2 linked regions of the Homo sapiens genome follow. The protein of the gene in region 2 interacts with the protein of the main gene of each other region in a biochemical or structural test. Each region holds a gene or a part of one and is shown on either strand. Other genes may lie near its edges. The genes, in order: SIRT1 and RPS19BP1.

Region 1 (10,667 bases), on a different chromosome or scaffold from region 2:
TTTGTCAATAATGTAGTCACCACAAATTCATAGTGTACTCTGTAGACACTGTGAATCTACAGTATCACCTGTGAACCTAAATTTACATTCACCCGAGATCTCAGGCCCCAAGACCCACCTACTGCTTCAGAATGTGTGTGTATATACACATACAGTCTAAGACGCTTTTGAAAACTCCTCTAAGATGTAATGTGAATCCATGAATACCAATGAAGTTCTTTCTACAGCACACCAAATCAATCCTAGCTTGGCCATTTGGGGTTTAAGTGAAAGAGTAGGATCCCTAAAAACTGATGGAAAAGTTTTCTATCCTTGAATTCACAGTATGTCCCTAACTTAACATCTCTTCACACATAATAGATGTAGTATTTATTGTACCGTATCCCAGACGAATTCTCAAAAGCCTGGTTACCACACTGGTAGGTGGCCTATCTCAAGTTCTCTCCAAAGTGGCTCTCGAACTTTTTCATACTGCATCATGACCCAGTTCTCACCCTGACTACAACCTGTGTGACAACTCTGACCTGAATCCCTAAAATTTCACAGTCCACTACAAATCACTGTGAAAACCACTTATTTCCCTCTATTACAACAGACACATAGTACTCATGAGTTTCCCAAGACACCACAGGCAGGGCACAGTGGCTTACACCTGTAATCCCAGCACTTTGGGAGGCCAAGGCTGGCAGACTGCTTGAGCCCAGGAGTTTGGTATCAGCCTGGGCAATGTGGCAAGACCTTGTTTCTACAAAAACTAAAAAAAAAAAAAAAAAAAATAGCTGAGCATGAGGGCATGCGCCTGTGGTCTCAGCTACAGCTACTCTGGAGAGTGAGGCAGGAGAATCGCTTGAACCCGGGAGGCGGAGGTTGCCGTGAACCGAGATCACACCATTGTACTTCAGCCTGGACAACAAGAGCAAAACTCCGTCTCAAAAAATAAATAAATTTAAAAAAAAATGACTGTTCCAGGTTAACTCTGTTTCCTGGGCAAAGAGATTGTCCGTTTGACACATCTGTCAAAATGACATTCAAGAAAAGTTCCCAGTGCAAGTCTTAGTGCATAGGTAGACTTTGTATACGCTAGAGACAACTGTGTATCTAAGTCAGTAGCAATTTTTCTACTTTCTGACTTCTGCCACGATTTGCAAACGTAAGCATCCCTCTATGCTTTTTCTAGTTTCCCCTGTGAACACGTCTGCTCTTTTTAAATCCCTACTTATTGTTAAATATTTTGCTCCTTAGAAAGCCTTCTGTAATCTAATCTCCAAGTAGAATCTACCTTTTGGGGCTGGGCGCCGTGGCTCACGCCTGTAATTCCAGCACTTTGGGAGGCCGAGGTGGATGGATCATGGGGTCAGGAGTTTGAGACCAGCCTGACCAACATGGCGAAACCCCGTCTCTACTAAAAATACAAGAATCAGCCGAGCAAGGTGGCGCATGCCTGTAATTTCAGCTACTCAGAAGGCTGAGGCAGGAGAATCTCTTGAACCTGGGACGCAGAGGTTGCAGTGAGCTGAGATCGTGCCACTGCACTCCAGCCTGGGCGACAGAGTGAGACTCCGTCACAAAAAAAAAAAAAAAAAAAAAAAAAAAAAATCTACCTTTTGTGTGATGTTTTGTTCAAAACAATAATAAAGTACTTTGTTCTTCAGCAGCACCTATACCAAAGTATTAATGAGTATCACTCACATTTATAATTATACACAACATTAATCACTGTGTCTCCATAACTTACCACAGTGCCTAATATGAAAAAGGCCAAAGGTTTATTCAACTGAACTAAAATGTATTTACAGCAAATGACTGGAATACTCAAATACAGTTGTCTAAAATTTGTCAGTTTTCGCCAAGTATGGTAAATGGAATGAGACTTAAAGTTCTAAGTTATATAAGACTGTTATAGCTAAGTTACAGTGGTTTTCTTTTTTTTAACATAAGTTAGGAATTTCCACCATACAGACTACTTGGACTTAAAACATCGGCTTCCAAAGAGTAGAAAGTGATTTCACATGTCAGTTAACACTTATTGATAAAGACTATGCATGTTCTAAACAGGGTAGAAACTATTCCTATATTCAGTGGAGAAGAATCACGCGTGTTTTTTCTAAGTCCTCAGAGAAAACAAAGATGTGTTCTACATCTGAGACAACACCGCATAGTAGTTAAGGGGGCAGGCTCTAAGCATAAATAGACTGGATTTTAATCTGGTTCTTCCACTTCTTAGTAGTTACTGTGCATGAGGTATTTAACCTCTATGGTCCTGAGTTTTCCCACCTGAAGAAGAGTAATAGTTCCTACCTCAGATTAAAATCAGGTAACATATGTAAAGCAGCTGACCTACAGTAAGCACTCAAATCTGTCATCATTTCTGCCAGCTAATAACCCATTCTTATTTTTCCATCCCCTAGAGAAACACAACATACAGAGCACTATTAAACACTTCCTTCTCCATATCATGTTAAGATACCAGAAGATTTACCTTTCTGATTACGAACTGTACAGTTTCTCTAAACAGAATCAACTACATAAAGCTACCCTATCGATTAACCTGCCGAAATAGCTAATTTTTTGGAAATACTGTTATGACATTTATACTTTCAAAATGGTCCGACTGCCTTTCTTACCATCAAGCCGCCTACTAATCTGCTCCTTTGCCACTCTATTAGGCCAGCATTTTCTCACTGTTCCAGCCACTGAAGTTCTTTCATTTTTCTCCCCAGTACTAGAACCAACATTCTTCAAATCCGGATTTTCCATCTGTTCAGCAATACTTTCAACATTCCTAGAAGTTTGTACTTCCTGTGGTTTTTCTTCCATACAACCTTTTGATTCAGACACATCTAAATCATCATTACTCTTAGCTGCTTGGTCTAAAAGTGTGACAATCACTGAAGAATCTGGTGGTGAAGTTCTTTCTGGTGAACTTGAGTCTTCTGAAACATGAAGAGGTGTGGGTGGCAACTCTGACAAATAAGCCAATTCTTTTTGTGTTCGTGGAGGTTTTTCAGTAATTTCTGAAAGCTTTACAGGGTTACAGCAAAGTTTGGCATATTCACCACCTAACCTATGACACAATTCATTAATTATGACATCACAGTCTCCAAGAAGCTCTACATCAAAATGCAGATGAGGCAAAGGTTCTCTATTAATTAATATCTGAGGCACTTCATGGGGTATGGAACCTAAAATAGGGTGAAAAATAAGAGTTAGAAAAAGGGAGGAGGAAGTAAGCTAATAAAACCACAACAGATACATTATGCAAAAATCCAACAAGGGCTTGAGCTCCAAATTCCCAAAAAAGACCCATGCACTAAATACTTAACCAAGCCATTACATTTCATCAAGCAAGCAGATGGGCAGTTAAGTGTCTTTTATAAAACGCTCAAGTTCTGCTCCTATCACCTGGTTACCCCTGAGCAATCTTCCCAGACTTTCCCACTCTGAACCTCAAATTTCCTTGTCTGCAGAATGGGGATGATAATAGTACTTCTCCACAAGACTGTGGTGAGGATTAAATGAGTTAGTCAAGTGCACAGAAGAGTTCTTGGTACATAAATGTTCTACTTAAGTAGCTCCTGATATAAAGAAGGTGAGCTGGGTACAGTGGCTCACGCCTGTAATCCCAGCACTTTGGGAGGCCGAGGCAGGCGGATCACCTGAGGTCAGGAGTTCAAGACCAACCCGACCAACATGGTGAAACCCCATCTCTACTAAAAACACAAAATTAGCCGGGCGTGTGGTAGCGCATGCCTCTAATCCCAACTACTTGGGAGGAGAACTGCTTGAACACGGGAGACTGCAGTGAGCCGAGATCATGCCATTGCACTCCAGCCTGGGCAATGAGGGAGGGAGGGAGGATAGGAGGGAGGGAGGGAGGGTGGGAGGAAGGAAGGACGGACAGATGAACGGAAGGAAGGACAGACAGAAGGATGGACGAAGGAAGGAAGGAAGAACGGACGGGAAGGATGGACAGAAGGAAGGACTAACAGAAGGAAGGATGAATGGAAGGAAGGACAAACGGAAGGGAGGGAGGGAGGGGAGGGGGGGAGGGAAAAAGTCATATAAACATATTCTACGCTATTATAAACCTGTTTCTTTTTTTAATTATCTTTGCAACACATCATACTATCCCACAGAAAGCTTTTGAAAGAAAAGTTTTTAAGGACCAGGCATGGTAGCTCATGCCTGTAATCCTAATGCTTTGAGAGGCAGAGGAGGAAGGATCACTTGAGGCCAGGAGTTTGTGACCAGCCTGGGCAACAAAGTGAATCCCGTTTCTACAAAAAAAAATTTAAAAATTTGCCAAGCATGGTGTGCGCCTCTGGTCCTAACTACTCAGGAAGCTGAAGTGGAAGGACTGCTTGTCCCCAGGAGTTGAAGGCTGCAGTGAGCTGAAACTGCACCACTGCACTCTAGCCTGAGCTACAGCAAGACACCCGTCTCTAAAAAATAAAAAGAAAAGCTTTTAAGCAGAGTGCCTTTGATTTTGCTTTAAGAAGAGCAACTCAAGAACAAAGAGATTTGTATATTAAATTTTCATGTTTCATTTAATTGCAAATTGTCTTGTATTCTACTTTAACAGAATTTCACAGCTAATTAGGTAAGACTGAGTTAACTGCTAAAGCCACGAGATATGGGATAGACACAAAATTGAAGAGCTTGACTCCATGTTTCTTCCAACTGTTTACTCTGGCTGCCTTGACTGCTGATGTGGGGTCTAATTCAATTCTCTGGCTAGGGATTTAATATTTTTCCTCTCCTCTTTCCCTCACTTATGAAAGGACACATCTGATGCAACTGAAATCTCTCTCTCTCCTCCTCTGATTCTAAACTAGAGGAGGAAACAGACAGTATGAGAATATATATGACAAAGAAATTTTCCTGAGAGTAATAAGGATTTAAATTTTATGTGAACACTTTTATATACACACCCTTTTGGGTAAACTATATCGACATATCACCGTTATGGCATGGCTGTTACTACAAGAATGAACCAATCATTCTGAGCCCCCAAATTCCATCTTACATGGTATGTTACACTTCTACCAAACTATACATTTGAATTTATTAAATGTGAAATCAATTAAATTTGAAAGATCAAAACTGTAATCAAAAAATATAAGGATAAAGGACCATTTCATAAATTAATTGATGCTAACCCTTGCAACATTAAAAACACATTCCACCAAAAAGTCTAAGTTGAACTCTACCTTTGTCTTAATTTTTCACATAAATTAGAAGTAGAGTTTAGCATTACTTCTGGGTTTGTTTTTGATTTTTTGAGACAGAGTCCCACTCTGTCACCCAGGCTGGAGTGCAGTGGCACATTCTCGGCTCATTGCAACCTCTGCCTCCTGAGTTCAAGCGATTCTCATGCCCCAACCTCCCAAGTAGCTGGGACTACATGTGCACACCACTATGCCCAGCTAATTTTTGTATTTTTAGTAGAGACAGGGTTTCACCATGTTGGCCAGGCTGGTCTCAAACTGCTGCCCTCAAGCGATCCACCTACCTCGGCCTCCCAAAGTGCTGAGATTACAGGCACGAGCCACCAACATTACTTGCGTTTTGACAACCCTCCACCCCCCATCAAAATGTCAGATTCACCAGTCTCAATGAACAATGCCACCTAAAAAAACAGTTCAGCCAGATGTGGAGGCTCGTGCCTGTAATCCTAGCTACTCAAGGGGCTGAGGCAGGAGGATCACTTGAGCCCAGGAGTTCGAATCCAGCCTGGGCAACACAACAAGACCTCATCTCTACTAAAAATAAAGAATTTCTGGCCAGGCATGGGGGCTCATGCCTGTAATCCCAGCACTTTAGAAGGCAGAGACAGGCGGATCACCTGAGCTGAGGAGTTCGAGACCAGCCTGGCCAACATGGTGAAACCCGGTCTATACTAAAAATACAAAAACTAGCCAGGCATGTTGGTGGACGCCTGTGATCCCAGCTACTCAGAAGGCTGAGGCAGAAGAATCGCTTGAACCCGGGAGGCGGAGGTTGCAGTGAGCCAAGATATGCGACTGCACTCCAGCCTGGGCAACAAGAGGGAAACTCCATCTCAATAAACAAACAAACAAACAATTTCTAAAATTAGCTCTTCACCACTCTTTCAAACAGAAGCAGAGTTAAGATTACTAGCGTCTATTATACAGACCCACAACCCATGACATTATATATAGAAATGTTCTCCAAAAACCATCACCAACTTACTTGGAATTAGTGCTACTGGTCTTACTTTGAGGGAAGACCCAATAACAATGAGGAGGTCAACTTCATCTTTGTCATACTTCATGGCTCTATGAAACTGTTCTGGTAAATTTTCACCAAAAAACACAATCTCTGGTTTCATGATAGCAAGCGGTTCATCAGCTGGGCACCTAGGACATCGAGGAACTACCTACATATTTTCAGATTTTGGTTGAGGTAGAGAAGCAAAGAGTAAGCCCAAGTTAGAAATAGTCAACATTTCCATACCTCTAAGAATACATTTCAGAATTATTAAAAAAAAAACAAAACAGAAAAGCTATGGATAAACAGCAACTGTCAATGATGGGTAGTTTATTAACATACTATGAAACAATGAAATACTATGCTCTTGTTATAATATCTATGTAGAAAAACACTTGACATTGAAGAGTCCATCATATATTAAGAGGAAAAACATAATGTGTGTATATACACTAAATGGGAATTGATCCTTTCAAAAAAAAATAGACATTTGTCAAATAAAATGATTCCATTTTATTTATTTGAGATGGAGTCTTGTTCTGTTGCCCAGCCTGGAGTGAAGTGGCATGATCTCAGCTCACTACAACCTCCACCTCCCGAGTTCAAATAATTCTCCTGCCTCAGCCTCCCAAGCAGCTGAGATTAAAGGCATATGCCACCATGCCAGGCTAATTTTTGTATTTTTAAGAGAGACGGGGTTTTGCCATGTTGGCCAGGCTGGTCTCACTTCTGACCTCAAATGATCGACCCACCTCGTCCTCCCAAAGTGCTGGGATTACAAGCATGAGCCACTGCACCCGACCAATGACTCCATTTTAATATACTATTCTTCCTCTTTCGTAATGACATGATTACCTCCATATATTGCTAAGCACACAGGACATATTTCTGGATAATTTTTATTTTCTGCCAAATTTTCCTATATTTTTTGGCAATGAACATGTATGAAATAATTTTAGATTACCATAACTAATTTAAGGTCCAAATCTGACAGGCACAAAAAGGGAGAGGAAGGAGAAAAACTACTACAACAACAACTTGCTTATGATCTGACATTTTATGTTCGGCTTAGATACTAAGAAGCCAATTTCATAATTTGAAGAGCCTTTATAGGGCTGTTTTCTATATAAGGTATTGAAAGGTTCTCGTGTATTTTACCAAAATTCCCAAATGCTAACTATTTTCTTCCTGAATCTTTCTGTACCATATATACTTTAAAGGGGTAAAAAAGGATTTTGAGGCAAAAGAAGAAATACTTCAGAGACATGAACAATTCCTAAAATATGGGCAACAAATTACCTGATTAAAAATATCTCCTCGTACAGCTTCACAGTCAACTTTGTATTTACAAATCAGGCAAGATGCTGTTGCAAAGGAACCTAAAAACAAACAACATATATATGCTTTATTAAAGAAGTATTTCTGTTTCTTGAACACACCACAAACGTTATAAAGTTTAACATCACAAATGTTAAGAGGGTTTAAGGATTTTTGTTTTTGTTTTTAACTTTGATTTTAAACCTCAGAACACACTGCAGATTTTGTGATATACTACAGGAGAATCTAGGGGATGAAGAATTTATATATTTATACATAGAATGAATATGATTCTCAATCTCTGAGACACTAATATAATGATGCCTTCTAAAGCTACTCTTTTCAACAAAACTGTAACAGCTCACTCCTCCAGGGCTAAAATCCTGCAGAGTTGGACAGTTCCAACTCTATTACCTTAGCTCGGCAGTTCTTAGAAACACTTTAGATACCTAATGGCCTGTTGATACTTGTTTTAAACATTTCTGAATCTCTGAATCCTGTACATCTCAACTATCCAGTTCTTTTAGTTTCATAAACTAAAGATGTCACATTTCTTCATTAACAGCTAATACTACTCTTGTATTCAGAATTTCTTTTTCTTTTTTTTTTTTTTTTTTGACAGAGTCTCACTGTCTCCCAGGCTGGAGCGCAATGGTGCAATCTTGGCTCGCTGCAACCTCCAACTCCCAGGTTCAAGTGATTCTCGTGCCTCAGCCTCCTGAGTAGCTGGGATTACAGGCGCCTGCCACCATGCCCGGCTAATTTTAGTATTTCTAGTAGAGTTGGGATTTCACCATGTTGGCCAAGCTGTTCTCGAACTCTTGGCTTCATGGGATCTGCCCGCCTCGGCTTCCCAAAGTGCTAGGATTACAGGCGTGAGCCACTGCACTCAGCCAGAAAAGATTATTTAAAATAATTGAATGCATGCAACTGCAGCATCTTTTGAAATCAAAAGCAAATTAATATCTGAGGTTTTCTATAATTAACTGTCAAGGCCAATACTTCTGTTTTTATTATTTTTGTTTTCTACTTTTCTGAGGTTATCGATAAATGAGATAACATGATTAAATAATGCTTTATCTCCACTTCTCGATGGCAGTCAGCTTTATAGGAAATATCTTCCTATAAAACTAAAATAAATTACAGAAAACCACTCTGAAGTTTACTAACCATGACACTGAATTATCCTTTGGATTCCCGCAACCTGTTCCAGCGTGTCTATGTTCTGGGTATAGTTGCGAAGTAGTTTTCCTTCCTTATCTGACAAGGCTATGAATTTGTGACAGAGAGATGGCTGGAATTGTCCAGGATATATTTCCTGTATCAAGCAAATGGTAGAAAAAATTTACATTAGTGAAATAAACTACAGATGTCATATGTTTAACAAAAAAATACTGATAATCCCACACACATAATTTTAAAAATGAAATAGATGAGCATTTTAAAGTATCTAGATGGATGCGACACACACCTACAAAAGGACGGTTGCTGTCATATGCATAAAACTCAGCAATTAGTGAACTTGGCCCCTTGAAGAAAAAGACAAAGTCGGCCCATAAACATCTCTAAGAAATGTTGATATTTTAATAAAAGTCAGAAGTAATACAACCTTAGGATATCTAATTTTTGTTGGCTGCAAATTCAGATTTTTTTCTTTAAAGAAAAATGGGAAAGTTTAAACTAAAATTACAGATATCAAGGTAGGGTGATTTAAAAAAAAAAGCACTGTCAATACAAGAATATTTAAAATTTTTTTTTGATTTATCATTCATTAGAATATCAACCTGCTGGAAGTTTAAAGCTAAAGTTTTAATCCTTACCAAAATTGTTTTCCTTCCACTGCACAGGCACATACTGGTATAGTATAGAGTTGCTCATGAATGCTGAGTTGCTGGATTTTGTGTGTGTGTTTTTCCCCCCAAATAATGCTTCAATGCTGTTTCTTCTTTAAAAACAAAGAATTCAGATATACACATGGCAAAAAGATCAGAGAAAAAGTATCAATTTTGGTCCTCCCAACTTTTGACAGTGTTTTTATTAAATTCCATTTAGTAAGTGACTATGGCAAAGGAAGTTTATTCTCTACTTTTTCCTTCAAAGTAGTAGTGCTATCATCTACTTACTTCCTTACCATTCATTACAGGCTCTAATCTATCACAATGCTAGCAAAAAACTAGACACAACCATATGTCCATCAATAGGGAACCGGTTGTATAAATATGGTACATCCATAATAGTGGAATATGTAGCCATTAAAAAGAATTGAGGGAGATCTAGATGAACTGCCCTGGAAAATGGTTCATGACATACGTGAAAAAAGCAAATTAGTCACCAGTATGTGTAACTTTTGTTTTTGTTACTAAGCAAAAATTGAAATTATATGCATATGTATATAGAGATGTCCATTTAATCAATCAAGTCAGGAAGGATACAAACAGGCTGTAAGCAGATGTGGGGAACTTTCACTTCTGACATTATACAAAAAAGTTTAATAGAGATTAAAGATGACTTTTTACCTATTTAATCTTTCAAATTAAAAAAAAATTCCCACTGCAACTTCTAGGTTCTACTACCCAGGCTTCTAAGTAAAACTTAAGTGAATTCCGTTAACAGCTATCACATACATGTACACATGCTGCTAAAAACCTCGTATAAAGAATCCAAAAACGTTGCCTTAGATTCAAATATTTATCACAAATTTCATGAATAACTCTTTGCAATTTAAGAAATAGAGAGTGCATATAGTAGCAAGGGAAAAGCTTAATAAAGTCAATGTTTACAGAAAATCAAAAGCCACTGTTTTGGAAAAGTGAGTTCAGTTAAATCAACCACTGTTTTCTTCCCCAGAATGCTTTGTTCTAGTACATTTACATTTGAGAGATTAAGCATTGTATGTCTCATTAAAGCTCCCTCTGGAAATAGCTTTTAGAGTATTTTAGGCACTATGAGAATATGCTAGGCAACAGATAAAATAGGACCTATAATAGTAAGCAAGTGATAATAGCATGCCAAATGCAGAATTTAAAAAATAAAATAACTCCAAAGCAAGGTCAGGGAAAAAGAGCAAGTACCAAGACTCCACCGTCCCTGAATTAACTGTGTGCCTTATCCACGTCCAC
Region 2 (16,168 bases):
TGGCCTATGGGTGGACACTGGCCCATGGGCAGGTGGTATAGGCAGTGATAGTGGCCTGGACAGACCGGCTGGATTTGGCTAGGCAGATATCTGTTCCGGAGAGCCCAGCACAATAAGGGGTACGGGAAGAGGGGGCAGAGATGAAGTTGATGTCTGGCCACCACCCTGCATGTGGCAACTTGTGGCCCCTGCCAGGCCTTGGCCAGCCCAGCCTAGGCTGACCAGGTCAGAGGTGGAGCTGGGCTTTACCCAGTGACCAGGGGCCCGGGGCTGGGGGATAGGAAGGGACCTCACAGGCGGGAGCAGACAGCACTCAGCATTTTCTCCTGCTTTGTGTCTGGGACAAGGCTGTAGGTTGTGGAGAGCAGAGAACGACCTTCATCTTTTCTACAACTAGTCCTGAGTGGGTGCCTGCTCTGCACTACACTGTCTGGGTGCTGGCTACAGCAGTGAGCCAAATAGATAAACATCCCTGCCCTCATGGAGCTTTGCTTCTGGTAAAGGAGACAGGTGGACCCTAAAAAGAAGAAAGAGGTGACGTGTCACATTCAGATGTGACACAGCAGCTGGGTAGGGCTTGGACATGCTGGGCATGCTCCTTAAGACTGGTGCTTAGGGAGTTGCAGGGGTCAGCCCGGCAGGGGACTGGGCTGGGATTGGCAAGGAGAGGCGGCCAGGATATGGGTGTGAAGAGAGGGAACCCCCCCGCTGCCAAACAAGAGAAAGGATGGAGGGCCCATTTCCTGAGATGGGGAAAACCATGGGAAGAGCATGATTTTATTTCAAAGAGGCCAGGGAGAAATAAAAAGTCCCTGGCTTTGGGAGGCCAAGGCAGGTGGATCACAAGGTCAGGAGTTCAAGAACAGCCTGCCCAATATGGTGAAACCCCTATCTCTACTAAAAAATTAGCTGGGCATGGCGGCACGTGCCTGTAATCCCAGCTACTCGGGAGGCTGAGGCAGGAGAATCGTTTGAACCCAGGAGGCAGAGGTTGCAGTGAGCCAAGATCACGCCACTGCACTCCAACCTGAGTGACAGAGTAAGACTCCCATCTCAAAAAAAAAAAAGAAAAAAGAAAAAGCCCTTGCAGTGACACTCAAGTGCCAACCACCCTTGCCCAGGTGCCCCATGAGGTGGGGTGGGGGCTCTCAGCCTAGTTGGGAAACGGAAGGTGGATGCTTAGACCAAGTAGAAAGTGGCAGCTTCAGAAGAGAGAGCAGGGCCTCCCAGCTGGGCTTTGAGGGGTGGGGAGAGTTGTGGACAGAGAATGAGAACACCCCATGAAAGTCAGCCGGGCAGGCTGGGCGCGGTGGCTCACGCCTGTAATCCCAGCACTTTTGGAGGCCGAGGTGGGCGGATCACGAGGTCAGGAGATCGAGACCATCCTGGCTAACATGGTGAAACCCCGTCTCTACTAAAAATACAAAAAAAATTAGGTGTGGTGGTGGGTGCCTGTGGTCCCAGCTACTCAGGAGGCTGAGGCAGGAGAATGGCTTGAACCCAGGAGGCGGAGCTTGCAGTGAGCTGAGATGGCGCCACTGCACTCCAGCCTGGGGGACAGAGCGAAACTCCGTCTCAAAAAAAAAAAAAAAAAAAAAAAAGTCAGCCTGGCAGGAAAGAATGGGGCACACACCAAGTGCCACAGTCCCACTGCCTGTGGCGGAGGCCTTTGCCCAGGCTAAGCTCTGAGCCTGCAGCTGGGCCTCAGCAGAGTCCCATGTTGCAGTCCTGGCCCACTCCTGCCTGGCCCCCTTGGCCAACTCCTCTAGTAGCAAAGAGGGCCAGAGAGTGTGGGGGCTTGAGCAGCCCATCCCACTGTGGAAGACACAGGAAGCCATGGCTGGGGCCCTCCTCTGGGTCATGGGGTGGCTTCCTCAAACCCTGCTTCCCCAAACCACCTGTGACGCTTCCGGTGCTTTCATACCCATCCATGATGTCTAGACTGAGGGAGGCCTCCTGCTTTGTCCTGTCGGCCCTGGGTTGAAGTGACAACTCAGTGTCCTCTTTTTTTGAGACAGGGTCTTGCTGTCACCCAGGCTGAGGTGCAGTAACGCCATCTTGGCTCACTGCAGCCTCTGCCTCTCGGGTCCCAGTGATCTTCCCACCCCAGCCCTTTTCCCCACAAGCAGCTGGGACCATGAGTGCACACCACCATGCCCAGCTAATTATTGTATTTTTTTTGTAGAGATGGAATTTTGCCATGTTGGCCAGGCTGGTCTTGAATTCCTGACCTCAGGTGATCCACCTGCCTCAGCCTCCCACAGTGCTGGGATTACATGTGTGAACCACTATGTCTGGCCTCAGTGTCCTCTTATTTGGGCCCTGTTGGTCACCAGGTCCTGGCCATCACAGCACCTCTTCGGCCCCCCATGGGGACAAACCCTCTCTCCTCCAGTGCTACCCCAGTCACCCCAGCTCCCTGCTGCCTTCCAGACAGCTGCACCAGAACTGCTCAGGGTGACAGTTAAAAGGCAGACTCCTCAGTGTCCTGTCCTTGACCCACTGGACCAGAGTGCCAGCAGTAAACACAAATGACTGTCACCCAGAGGGGCATGGACAGGCACCCAATAGTGTTATTTGGCATTAAGTGTAAGATTTATGGGGAAGCTCACAAGTGGGGAAGCAGCAGGACCCTGGCTCCCATCCTCCTCGTGGGACAGTGCCTGTCACTCTGCACTCTACACAGGGAGGGAGCAGGAAGAACACCTGGGCGATTATGTAACAGTGGGCGTGTTCTTGTTAGAAAGGGGCCCTGGGCCTATGGTCAGCCTGTTCTTCCAGGCGCTAGAGGCTGAGTTGGCTTTTTGTTAAGCCGCTTAAAATATTAAGGCCACTAGTCTCCACGGATATCCAAGTTTCTCTGCCCAGTGGGGTCATTACAGCCCAGCAGGCAGGAAGAGGCCCTGGTCTCTAAGGTTTGGGGTCACAGCACACTCCCTCCCCATCCCCCTGCTGATGGAGGTCGCCTGGAGACAGGACCTGACTCCAGCTCTGCCCCCGGAAGATGTGTGGCCCCCTCATGTCCTCATTTAGGATGGAACACGGTTAAAGACCAGGAACAGACCACCCAGGGCAGTGGGGGAGCAAGTGCTGTTACAAATAACAGGCCCGAAGGCAATGTCGTCAGGGAACCCAGGGAGCCAGATGTCACTCCCATCAAACCCAGCCTCAGGGGACTGCCAGGCTCTCGACCAGCAGCAATGGGAGTCACCACAGCAAAGGAGCCCTTAGGCTATGGTGGGGAGGAGAGAGTTTAGGAGACAAAAGCAGCTGCCTGAAGGCTTCCCAGGTCCCTTCCCCTCAGGCCCCCTGATGAAAGACTCCTGGGCTCTCACTTCTCACCTCTCCTCCGCTGGCCCTGCCTCCGCTTCCGCCTCCTGTCTTCACTCACACAGTCATTCAGTGCCTGCCTGTCCTTCACCTCCTGATCCCACCCCATGCCTGCTGGAAGGGTCCCGCCTGCCTCCCCTCGCCTCCATCCTTCAGCTCAGGCACACCTGAGTGTGAAACCGTTTCTTCAGGTTACCTCCTGAGTCCTCTCTACTGTCCCCTCCCCACTATGACAGGCATTTGACCCCACCTGGCTGCTCACCAGAGCATGAGCCAGAAAAGGAACACACCGGGTGAAATGCTCCGCTCATGGCGGACTCCACGCTCCCCGGGCGCAGGCGGAAGTAGCAACACTCCCACTGCCGGACCCAGCCACCTGCACTGGAACTGCTCCCAGCAGCTATTTTTGCCTCAAGAGTCACCTTTTCAGCTGTGGTGGCCATCCCCAGAGGAGGGAGGCGCCCCTGGCAGCAGAGGTGGGTGTTCTGATGGCTGCCTGCCGGGGCTGGACTGGAGGACTTGTGACCCGGAGCTCAGAAGCACGCTGGGAGATGGGGAAGGCAGCGTGGCGCTTTGGTGCCACAGGAGATGGGAGACACCCTGTGGGGCAGACCAGCAGCAAACACAGCTCTTGGGTTCACATTTATTGTAACTTGGAAGCCCACCCTTCTTCCTACTCCTGGAGCTGTCGTCCCCAAGGGCTCAGGAATTAGCCTTGCTCCACAGCAAACAGCCCAGAGGCCCCACCTGGGCAAAAGCAAACAAAACAGATACGTTCCTTTCCGGCAGGTGCAGATGCTCTGCCCAGGCCTGCGGAAGCCAGCTCCGGTCTGTGTGTAAATCCTCCCCAGGACTTCCGGCCCACCAGCTCCATTCCAGCCTCCACTCGGCTCAGCTCCGCGGCTTCCTCGAGCCAGGCTGGTCCTGCATCGCCATCTGCTGGCCGCGCGGCACGGCCGGTTCCTGGAGCCAGCAGGAGTCGGAGGCTGCAGGGCTTGAAGGCCTCTTCACCGTGCCCTCCAGGGAGCCTAGCTGCCGAAGTATTCCTGCTGGAACTTCTGGAAGTCTTCCTCGGTGAACACGGTGCCCTCAGCCTTCTTCTTCTTGGTCTTGGCCACAGGCCGGTCACAGGCCTTGCGGCCCCGGTTCTGGCGCAAAATCTGGCGAGGGTGCGGGACCGAGGGCCCATCATTTCAAGAGCAGAGGAGGCCCGCAAAGGTCACAGGGGAGTTCGGCGCAGGGCAGGGCTGGCCCAGCCTCCCACCCTATGCTCAGGGCTGAGACCGCCATGGGTCCCTAGGGGAACAGCCTCGGCTCTCACCTCCCAGGTCCCTTCCTATAGTACCCTCGACCAACCTGCTGGCTCACAGACTCAGCCACGGTGCTTCTCGTCCTGGTCAGAAACTTCAGGTTTACTCTGAGGTGGTCTCGACACTCTCGCTTCCGGTACTCGTCTGTGGGTAGCAGGCAGGGAGCACCATTTCAGATTCACTCCCCCTGGAACCATTCTCAGTCCCTGGCCCATGGCCCTGCCAAAGACCTCATCGTTCCCTTCCCAGGTTATTACAGCGGCTGGGCTCTTCTCCATCAAATGCATTCTCCACACAGGTCCTGCTGAAAGCCCCAGGCTCTTGGCCCCCACCCCCATTTTCCAACAATTATGTCCTGAATACTACTCACCAAGGGAGCTACTCTGGAGCTTTCGCTTCAGTGAGAGATGAAGGACAAAGGACCCAGTATTTTAGAAGCGCAAACATTTCATGGAGAAAAACAAAAGAGGAAACAGAAAAGGGGAATTCCAGGGGTGGAGGGTGCAATTTCAAATAGGAGGGAATGAGAAGGTCTCACTGAAATGACTCGAAGAGAGCTGTGGATATCCGGGGAAAGAGCATTTGTCTAGGTAGAGGGAACACCCAGTGCAAAGGCCCTGAAGCAGAAATGTGTCAAATGTGTTTGAAAAACACAAAACAGCTGGAATGGCTGGGTGCGGTGGCTCACACCTGTAATCTCAGCACTTTGGGAGGCCGAGGCAGGCAGGTCACCTGAGGTCAGGAGTTCGAGATCAGCGTGGCCAACATGGTGAAACCCCGTCTGTATTAAAAATAACGAAAATTAGCTGGGTGTGGTGGTGGGCACCTGTAATCCCAGCTACTCGGGAGGCTGAGGCAGGAGCATCGTTTGAACTCGGGAGGCTAGAGGTTGGAGTGAGATGAGACTGCACCACTGTACTCCAGCCTGGGTGACAAAGCAAGACTCCATCTCAAAAAAAAAAAAAACAAACCAAAAACAACAACAAAAACAGCTGGAGTAGGGGGAGTGGGTAGCAGGAAGAGACCAAGTTTGGCTGGGGGTGGGGGTAGGTCATATAGCCCTTGTCAGGCACCCTAAGACCGCCACCTTTTAGTGACTACAATGAGAGCCACCCAGAGGAAAAACAAGGAATGACTTCTGATTTTACACGATCACTTTGGTTGCTGTTGAGAACAAGATTACGGGGGGAGGGGCATGTGGAAGGCAGGAGACCGGCTAGGCTTCTGCAATAATTCAGGCAAGAGACGATGCAGCTTGGAGCAAAGTGGCAGCTGCAGAGGTGTTCTTTCCATTGGCTGCGAGGCTTGCCATTCCTCTCACTCAGCATCTATGTGCCAAAACCTGTGGTGGACACCAAGGCTGCGGACAAGCCCAAGGAGGTGTGTGCCTTTAGGAGCTTCCATCCAACAGGGGAGGTGGGTGAGCACCCAGGACACGACAGTGAGACAAGGGCTGGGACAGATGGGAATGACCTCTGGCACTCCACACTCCTGCTTCATGGCAAGTATCGCTGGGGCTCAAACCTGTCTCACTTTCCTGCCTCCAGACTTTGGCTTAAGTTGTATTTCCTCCTTGGAATTCATAATTCTTTTAACAAATACTTTAACATCTTTTATGCATTAGACTCTAGGGATTCAGACACAGTAAGAGCTTGCCACGTCCTGACACATGTCAAAATATCACCATCTTGCCTACACCAGCCCCTCCGAAAGTCTTTATGTCTATTAAGTGACACTACGTCCCCCAAGAAACTAGGCTCCACCTTCACAGCCAATTCACCACTAAAACCCCTCTAAAGGCTGAAATTCTCTGCTGCCCCCTCTTTAACATATTTTCCACCTGCACAATTCTCTTGTTATCTCTGCTGCTATAGCCACTGCCCAGGCCACAGCATGTCCTATTTCAATGGAGTAGGTAATAGCAGCACTCTGGAGACACAATGCCCGGGCAGCCACAATGCCTGTACCACCTGGGCAGGTGCCTTTTTCTGAATCTGTAAAACGGGGGTGATAGTAGTATCGACCTCAAAGGGCTGCTGTAAGGATCAAACGAGCTTACATTTGTACAGCACTTAGAATCAGCACCTGGTACAGAGTGTTAGTGAATGTGTTTAAATGCTCCATCTTTGATCCTCATTCACTAGGTCACCTTTACCAGCCTTTATTTTTTCAAATTCTCAAAGGCAACAACCTCCTTTCTGACTCAGGACCTTTGCACATACTATTCTTCCTAGAATATTCTCCTACTTTTCACCTAGCTCACTCTTATACATCCTTCAGCTCTCGGCTGAAATGTCGCTTCCTCAGAGAAGGCTGACTTGGCCTAAGTCCCCATCAGAGTACCGTAGTCTTTTAATTCATAGGCTTCAATGCACTTAGCAATGACACACTGGGTTTGATATTCTTTGATGCTTCTCTCCCCACTAGGGCCGTAGTCCACGAGGACCAGGACGGTGGCGTGTTCTGTCACCTTCGTATGTCCAGGGCCCCGCTCCGCGCCTGGCACACAGTAGGTCTAGCAATACCGGGCGAACGCTTCAAGCCCTGCCTCAAGCGCCACCTCCTCTGGGGCGCAGGTCCCAGCACCGGAGGCAGCACTTTCAGCCCCTTCCCGAACTTACCCAGTGCCGACTTGGGCACCTTTCCCTTGGCCGAGTTCCGCAGTTTCTGGGCCTGAATTGCCTTCGTCTTCCGGGGCCGTTTCACCGGAGCCCCTCTCGGCTTGGCCTGACCTGGAGGGTCCCGGGGGGCTGTAGGGGAAGAGAGAGGAAGAGACCCAGGTCAGAGGGCGCGCAGCGTTCCCATGCCACTGGGGCTAAGCCCGGCCTGGATTGTTTTCCATCCAGGGCTCCCGCCCGCAGCCACTACCATCCTCCTGCCCGCGCCGGACGTCCCCTGGCCAGCCCTCCTCACCCTCGGACGCCGCCAGCAGCTCCAGGCCCCGCCGCAGCAGGGCGGCGGACATGGCGGCGCTTGGCTCCGCCCACGAGCCTCACACTACTTCCGACCTGGCAGTCCCTGTCGTCTCGGCGGAAACCCGAGCCCGAACAGAGGGATCCGGAGGGGGATGGGCGGAAGTGCCCATCTTTCTTAGGACGCATGCGTTAGGGGTTTACACTTGAGCGGAAGAAGGGGCGGAAACTGGAGGCGGGTCCAAGGCGCAGAAAGACACATGTGTTACTCAATCCCAATCTACCTGGCTCCTGGCGCTCAGTCCCCTCCTTCCCCGGAAGCCGTCCGCAACCTGCTCCGCCGGGTTGGCCAATCCTCTCGGGTCTCGTGGCTCCGTGGCGGGCTAGGATGGGGACAGGGCGGAGTGTTTTTCATATACTTCAACCAGCACTAGGTATCGCACAGGTTGAGTGCAGCATGAGAATCCAGTTGTCTTCCCTTAAGCCAGACATTAAAGACATATCTTTGTTTTGAAAACTACAATTATTTCTCATAAAATACGTTGTTTATGTTACCAAGCAATGGGTTTATTGTCATTTTAAGTGAATTAATGAATATGTAAAATTTTTGTTTTAGTTTCTAGTATGGCAAATATCAGTTGCCTACATACAAAAGTTCTTTGGGATCCTGAATTTTTTAAAATTTATTTTATTTAATTAAATTAATTTTTTTTTTGAGACGGAATCTCGCTCTGTCGCCCAGGCTGGAGTGCAGCGATCTCGGCTCACTGCAACTTCCGCCTCCCGGGTTCAAGCGATTCTTTTGCCTTAGCCTCCCGAGTAACTGAGATTACAGACGCCCGCCACCACGGCCGGCTAATTTTCTTTTTAAAAAATTTTTAGTAGAGACGGGGTTTTGCCATGTTGGCCAGGCTGGTCTTGAACTCCGGACCTCAAGTGATCCGCCCACCTCAGCCTCCCAAAGTGCTGGGATTACAGGAGTGAGGGGATTCTGAAGTTTTAAATGTAAGAAGCTTCTTAGACCAAAACATTTGAGCCCCTCTGGCCTAGAAGTGACACTGCTTACCTGGGGGAGGAGCCCTGGGCTTGTTCGCTGCTCCATCTGCAGCTGGCAGCCCAGCACCTGGCATGGAGAAGACACGCAATAAGTGAACGGTGAATCAGAAGGGACCACTGGGTTCACTCAGCCGGGTTCTGAGGGCCTTCTGTGTACTTGACACCACAGAGTGTGGGACCTGGAGTTCGTCCTCCGGGATAGACCACACCGTTTAAGCTCCATCGGCTAGAGAGTAATAATAACAACCAACACAAACTCAAGCATTTGTGCTGTTCTACGTGCTTTACATTTGTTAACTTGTTTATCCCCCCTACCCTTCCAGGTAGGAATTGTCTTTTGCATTTTACAGACGAGGAAACAAACACAGAGAGGCGAAGGTCACACGGGTGGAGTCAGGGGTGGGAGTTAAGACTGGCAGCCTGGCCGCAGGATTTGTGGGGGCGCTCCTGTCCCAGCCACCAGGGAGAGCAGTGCTGTGGTGCTGGGTGGGGCCTGTCAAGCCATGGGGTCAGGTAGGCCCCTGGAGGGTGAGGAGGAGCTGACCATGTATGGGCAGCGGGGATTGTTCTAGGCGGAGACCGCTGTAGCGAGGACCTATCCCCTGTGACACACGAGTGGCCCTTCAGGATGCCATGCTGGGCTGGAGGGTCGCAAAGGCCTCAGACTCCATGATTTTGTCCTAAGGGGAGTGTGGGGCCTGGAACCCAGTGACTGTTCAGACATATGCCTCCTTCCTGCTTCTAACATAGCCGGATTGTTGTCTTACTTATTATGTGTATTGCGTATTGTCTGTTTCCCCGCCCATACCCCACTGTAAGCTCCGCAAGGCAGGGATCTTTGTTTTGTTCATTGTTATATCCCTAGCGCCTGGAACAGTGCTTGGCATACGGTAAGAGTTCAGAAACGCACGAAATGAGTGGATGAGAGCTGAGTTTGGGACGCCAGTGAGCCGCTGGGTTGAGGCCCAGGAGGTCGTGGGATGTGCAGCGAGTCAGCCTCTCAGGAGGGCAAAGGACCAAGCTCTGTCCTCCTCCCGATCTAGGCTGAATCAGCCCACGGTCCCCCGGGTGGAGGAGTTTTCTGCCAACGTGCCAGGTGGACCCCTGCAGCGTCCGCAGCCCAGCCGGGCACGGGCGGGACGGCAGGCCAGGCGCTGCCCCAGCCTCCCGCGGAGTTATCAGCACATCCGCGGGGCCGGGCGCATTTCTGCCAATAGGTGGCGCCGCAGGACAGCTTTCTCACGCGGCGAGACTCCAAGGCCTCAGCTGCGCCCACCCGGGCTAGGTGGGGGTGGGGGTCCGGACGTCCTTCTGCCTCGGCTGGCTCCTTGCAGCCAGCACCGTGTGGCCCCGGCTTCCTGCTGTCCCGCACCCCCTCCCACTCTCACCCTGGCCTGGAGGAGTGGCTGGGGAAGCTGAGGCAGAGCCACCAGGCTGGGCTGCCCAGGGCGGGGGGCGAGGTCCCTTCCTGAAAAGTGTGCAAATGACAGCTGGGAGCTGTGTGACCCCAGCAATCCCTTAACAAAGAGTGCCTCAGTTTCCTCATTGGTTGGATGGGGCTTGGCAGGGCAGCATCCCCCTTCTAGGAGAGGTGTGAGAACCGGTGGATCAATACCGTGCCGTGTGGGCCGGGCCTGGGTGGGTCTGCGCCCAGGGACTGCGTGTAGAGGGTGCTACAGCGCTGCCATGCTACCTGCTCCCTCTGGGCAAGACGGGATGGGCAGGGGCAGCCACTGTTGGGCCCAAGCAGATCACCCCACAGCCCGCATTTGGGCACCTGCGACCTGCCAGTCTTGACGTTGGCCCTGATGGGTCAAGCTGGGGGAGGGGGAGGGGGGTTGGGCAGCTGCTTCCTGTCTCCCTGTGGGAGGGCGGGTCATGAGGTCTCCCAGGCTAGTTCCCCACCTGGCATGACCCTGGATGAGCGGCTTCACTGCTCTGAGCCTGTTTCCACACTGGGTCCCTGCCTGCCCCTGATCCCCGCACTGAGGCTTTTGGCCACACAGAGGAACCATCGCCATAAAGGGCCCTTCGGCCCCCATGCCCTATGTCTCCTCCCAGGCTCCGTGAAACAGCTTAACTACCCTGGGCCTGGGAGGCTGAGAGGCAGGTGGCTTTCTGCAGGGCTGTGCAGCCCTTCAAGAACAGAGTCAGGACTCAAGCCCAGGTCTCCGGGTCCTAAGCAAGAGTATGTGTGTGGCCCCCAGGGACCAGTGGCCCCCTGGAGAGGGGACCGTAGGGTCTCTGGGAGGTGAGCAGTTCTGGAGAGGGTGTCCTGGTGGTCTGGGGCTGGCACAGATGCCCCGGTTTCCACAAGGCCTCGGCTCACACAGCTGTGTGTCCACAGGCAAGCCGCCCTCCCTCCCCTAGCCCATTTCCTCTTCCGAGGTTTTGGGGGCTTTAGAGAGTATTGTCCAGTCCTCCATACAGGGCCGAGGCGGGAGGCGCCCGGAGCTCCTGGCTCCTGTGGTATGAAGGGAGCACTTGCTCCAGAGCCAGGCTGTACATCCTGGCTTTTCCACTTACTAGCTGTGTGACTTTGGGCAAGTCCCACAACCTCTCTGTGCCTCGGTTTCTTCGTTTATGAGTTGACTATGATAATAATCCCTACCTCATAAGGCTGCTGTGAGGATCGAGGGTTGAGCATTTGGAATTCCGTTGGACGCAGAATAAGCACTCTAGTTTGTGAATCAGTGATTGCTCTGTGGACAGCAGTGTGCCGGTGGGACCTGGGCCCCCATCTGTGGGTGTGACCTGCACTTGTATGTCGCCTCTGGATTTCCACACTCTTGTGCTCACACACGGTTAGGTTGGAGGCCACAGGGAGTAACACCTGACAGCCTGGAGTCGCTGATTCCCGTTCAGACGCCGCCTTTGCCGCTTAGCAGATGTGTGACCTGGGCACCTACCTCACCTTTCTGAGCTTCGAGGGGGCGCTTGGGGTCTGTTGGAGGTGCAGTGAGGTGGCATGAAATGTGCTCAGCACCAGGCCTGGCATTTATTCATCTGTGCAGTCAATAAATACCTGCTGATACCACTGACGGAGCAGCCAATAGGAGAAAAACCAGCCAGCATTTGCTGAGCGTGAACCAGGAGCTGCTCCACGTGCAGGAGGCGGGCATTGGGGTGAATGAAGGGCTCCGTTGGGCCTGGCGGTGCCCACATGCTCGTGTTACACTCTCAGCAAGTGTGAGTCTCTGTCGTCCAGGGTCTGCAGGGTTCAGGGTGGCACCCACCAGTCCCAGGGACAGCAGCCCCCTCAGGGCATCCAGGCAGAGGCCAAGTGGCTTCTTTCCAATCATGTGAATGGTGAAATAGTGGCATGCCTGATTTTAAGGGTATAATGAAGACACAGAAGAAGCTACTGGAAATTATCCATGGAGATATGGGGTCAGCCAGTAACCCCCGGGTGGGGGTCAAAGGTGGGGTCTTTTTAATGTCTCCACCCTGACCAGCCAAAGATGCGGCTCTGCCATTAAGCTACTGTGTGAAGTTTTTTTTTTTTGTTTTTTTTTGTTTTTATTTTTTTTTTTTTGGAGAGCAAGTCTTGCTCTGTCCCCCAGGCTGCAGGGCAGTGGCGCGATCTTGGCTCACTACAACCTCCTTCTCCTGGGTTCAAGCGATTCTTCTGTCTCAGCCTCCCGAGTAGCTAGGATTACAGAGGCCCGCCGGTGTGCCTGGCTAATTTTTGTATTTTCAGTCGAGACAGGGTTTCACCATGTTGGCCAGGCTGGTCTCGAACTCCTGACCTTAGGTGATCTGCCTGCCTTGGCCTCCCAAAGTGTTGGGATTGCAGGCATGAGCCACCAGTGCCTGGCCTGCTGTGTGATCTTGGGTACATTCCTCCCAGTCCCTGGAGAAAGATGGGGCGGAGTCCCCAGTCCTGCCAGGTCCCCAGGGCCACTGAGATGTTAAGAGGTTACAGGAAGAGGAAAGGGTGAGCTTGGAAGACTGAGGGGAGAACTTGGGGGCCCCTTAGCAAGCAAGCACCCCTTCCTCAAGCCAACTTGTACCCAAAGACCTTACCAGTAGGTTGGGGTCAGATGGGAGGTCCTTAGGCAGAGCGGATGTCACCTGGCTCTGGGAACTTGACCTCGCTGTAAGATCTAGAATAAGTCCCTCCTCTATTCTGGGCTTTGCTATCCCCATCTGGGCAGTAGGGACAGACATAGCACTTTGTCGCAGAGAAAATATCCCTATAGGGCTTTGGGAGAGGAGGGCGTGGGGAGTGGGTGGTTCTGGGGCCTCAAGATCTCTGTGGTGGGGGTTCTGGCTCCCAAGGGGCTAGAATGGGGTTGGGGAGAGTTCTGTCCCTTCTAATCTCCGTCCTTTAATTCTAATTATGTCTCCATTAAAATGCAAATTTCCAACCAATACCCTTGGAAGGGAGGCCCTGTTGTCATAGCAACTGGCGTCTGTGGGGTGGTTGGGGAGAGGAGCAAGTCTCCATCTTCTGATCCTTCCAGACCAAGCTGGGGCCTGCCCAGAAGCCCCTTTCCTCCCCAGCTCAGAACTCTGAGCATCTCATCCACAGCTTGGGGGGCTCCTGCCCTGAGGCCATGTCTTCAGGGAAAGGGAGCTGGGTAACCATGCACAAATCATTTCTCCTTCTTGGCCTCAGTATCCCTATCTGTGAATTGGAGATAACAAGTCCTCTCTTGCACGCCCGTCCTGGGGATTCAGTGAATTAATGTATGAGCCATCAGGGAAGGGAGTCTGCCTTCCAATGAGGTTCCCGGGAACTCCCTGAAGCCAAGGCCTGGAGGCCTGGACCGCTCCCTGTGTGGGGTCAAGGCTGTCTCCTGCCTTCAAGTCCTACTCCCTGCTCCATCTGTGGACAAGGAGCCAAAAAGATGGTGTAGGACGTACCTTTAAGGCCTATGTAGACTCATTTCTTCAGGCTGAAGCTTCCATCCTGCTAATCATGTAACCATTTAACTTTATGCTGTTCTTTCCTTGCAAGTTGGATATGGATACCTAGAAAATGGGGAGGGGGTCTTTCTTCTCCCAGCGGATCTGAAAACAAGGGAGGATAAAGAGAAGAAATTTTAAGAAGGGAAAAGACAGCTGGCAAAAGAAGCAGCAAGAGGTGAATATGTGAGGCCTTTTTGCCTCTGCTGGTAGGAAGCTCAGGTTGGAAATTATTATTCAATTGTCCTAAGTGTAATTTATTACATGACTGTATTATATCCCTATATTATTCAGCTCTAATAAACGTTCATGTCAACTTTCTAGTACATCTAGCTCATGCCTATTCCCTAGTGGTTTCTGATCTTTTATTTCACTTAAAAAATCCTCTTTAGAAATAGCTGAGAGTATAAATTATAAATTAGCAATTATGACAGAGAGAGAGAGAAAGAGAGAGCATGCACAGCTGTTCTGTGCAGACCTTTCAGCCCCTAGGCTTCCATGATTGTGGCCTTATACTAAGTGCCAGGAGGGGAAGGATATACGCGGTCTTGTTCTGTTGCCCAGGCTGGAGTACAGTGGTGCGATCTAGGCTCACTGCACCTTCTGCCTCCTGGGCTCAAGCAATCCTCCTGCCTCAGCCTCTGGAGCAGCTGGGACTACAGGTATGCACCACCACACCTGAATAATTTTTTTTTTTTTTTAGTTGGAGTCTTGCTCTGTTGCCCAGGCTGGAGTGCAGTGGCATGATCTTGGCTCACTGCAACCTCTGCCTCCTGGGTTCAAGTGATTCTTCTGCCTCAGCCTCCAGAGTAGCTGGGACTACAGGTGCGCGCCACCACGCCTGGCTAATTTTTGTATTTTTAGTAGAGATGGGGTTTCACCATATTGGCCAGGCTGGTCTTGAACTCCTGACCTCGTGATCTGCCTGCCTTGGCCTCCCAAAGTGCTGGGATTACAGATGTGAGCCACCTTGTCTGACCCACACACGGCTCATTTTTGTATTTTTTGTAGAGGTGGGGTTTCACTGTGTCATCCAGGCTGGTCTTGAACTCTTGGCCTCAAGTGATCCACTGCCTTGGCCTCCCAAAGTGCTGGGATTACAGCTGTGAGCCATCACACCCAGCCCAATTTTGCATTCTTAACATTGAGCTGGTGAGAATGCATCCCATCAAGAACAAAGGTGAGCCCCTGCCTCTAAAAAAATTAAAAAAAAACCCCAACTATTGTTGTATTAAAGTTCTGAGATTTTAGAATTTTGATAGCATAGCCTAACATGTACTGACTAATACATCTTCCAGTTCCCCTCGTGACAGTCCCCCTTGATCCCTCTGGGAAGCCAGGCTGGGGCTCTGGCATGGTCTGTATCACAGGAGGGGTACAGAGGCACAATGAGGAGCAACAGGCTTTGCCACAGTTTCAAAGTCACATGCTCACTCAGTCTTCCAAACCATTCCCCCTGTGGGCTCAGCCTTCGAGAACACAAAGGACTAAGAAGCCTGCGCCTCAGCCTCTCCACTTCCCTGGCCAGGAGCTGAGCCTTCTTCCAGGCCCTGGGGTTTCCTCAGCCACAGAGGAATCCACACCTGGGGATCATGAGGTCGCTGGGAGGTGGACTTAGAGAAGAATGAGTGTTGGGGCTTGGGCTCCCTACCGTGTACTAGGTGCCAGCCTAGGACAGTCCGCCCCTCTGGGCCCCCTTGGCCAGCAGAGAGAAGGTGCAAAAGTGTGCTCCTGTTCACCCTGCATGGTAGAGCTGAGCGTGCAGGGAACAGGGCCTGAGGAGGTCAGGGGGACTTCCCTGAACCCCAGAGCTCTTGGGTAGGTGTGTTCGGAGGGCTGCATCTGTGTGAGGTGCCCTGGACCAGGAGGCAGGATGTGGCCAGAAGGGAACTGTAGGAGCTCAGAGGAGAAAAGAGAAAAGAGTTGAACACTGGACCAACAAACTCCACGAAGACCCCCAACAGGGGGCCAGTTCAGTCCATTCCAGCCCGTGGTATCCAACCCAGGAGATGCTCCCTGAGTCTCCATTTTCTGTCCCTCAGGGCTGGGCTTTGGAGACACAGAAAAGAGTGGTGCTGTCCCTGCAGAGAGACCCTGCCTTGGTGTGATAAGGGCTGGTGGTGCCAGAGTTGGAAAGGAGGGGAGGCAGGGAAGGAAACCAGCTGGGGGCCTGAACACCAGGCAAAGCATTGTTACCCTGAGGGCAGCACTGGCTATGTAATATGTGGAGCCCACAGCAAAATAAAAAGGCAGGGCTTGGCCGGGAGAGTGGCTCATGCCTGTAATCCCAGCCCTTTGGGAGGCCGAGGCAGGCAGATCACTTGAAGTCAGGAGTTTGAGACCAGCCTGGCGAACATGGTGAAACCCTGTCTGTACTAAAATATACAAAAATTAGCCAGGTGTGGTGGCAGGCACCTGTGATTCCAGCTACTCGGGAGGCTGAGGCAGGAGAATTGCTTGAACCTGGGAGGCAGACCTTGCAGCGAACTGAGATCACGCCATTGCACTCCAGCCTGGGTGACAGAGTGAGACTCCATCTAAAAAAGAAGGGCGGGGCCCCTTGTTAGAAAATTGTTAAACATTTCGAGGTGGCCACAGCAGAGCATTAGCCAAGCATGAGGCCCTTCTGAGGGTGGGGCCTTGTGTGAC

The links.
Region 1: the proteins of RPS19BP1 (region 2) and SIRT1 form a complex in vitro, tested with the Homo sapiens proteins (2 studies listed by BioGRID and IntAct).

What each region holds. Positions count from the first base shown.
Region 1 is NC_000010.11:67,904,989-67,915,655, reverse strand, and holds part of SIRT1 (NAD-dependent protein deacetylase sirtuin-1), read right to left. Parts: intron 9,494-10,667; exon of another isoform or gene 9,402-9,493; coding exon of another isoform or gene 9,369-9,401; intron 8,867-9,368; coding exon 8,719-8,866; intron 7,611-8,718; coding exon 7,531-7,610; intron 6,401-7,530; coding exon 6,214-6,400; intron 3,183-6,213; coding exon 2,625-3,182; intron 1-2,624. UniProt on the Homo sapiens protein: NAD-dependent protein deacetylase that links transcriptional regulation directly to intracellular energetics and participates in the coordination of several separated cellular functions such as cell cycle, response to DNA damage, metabolism, apoptosis and autophagy.
Region 2 is NC_000022.11:39,525,134-39,541,301, forward strand, and holds RPS19BP1 (active regulator of SIRT1), read right to left. Parts: upstream 7,616-16,168; 5' UTR 7,606-7,615; coding exon 7,554-7,605; intron 7,391-7,553; coding exon 7,262-7,390; intron 5,422-7,261; exon of another isoform or gene 5,331-5,421; intron 4,785-5,330; coding exon 4,687-4,784; intron 4,491-4,686; coding exon 4,359-4,490; 3' UTR 3,960-4,358; downstream 1-3,959. UniProt on the Homo sapiens protein: Part of the small subunit (SSU) processome, first precursor of the small eukaryotic ribosomal subunit.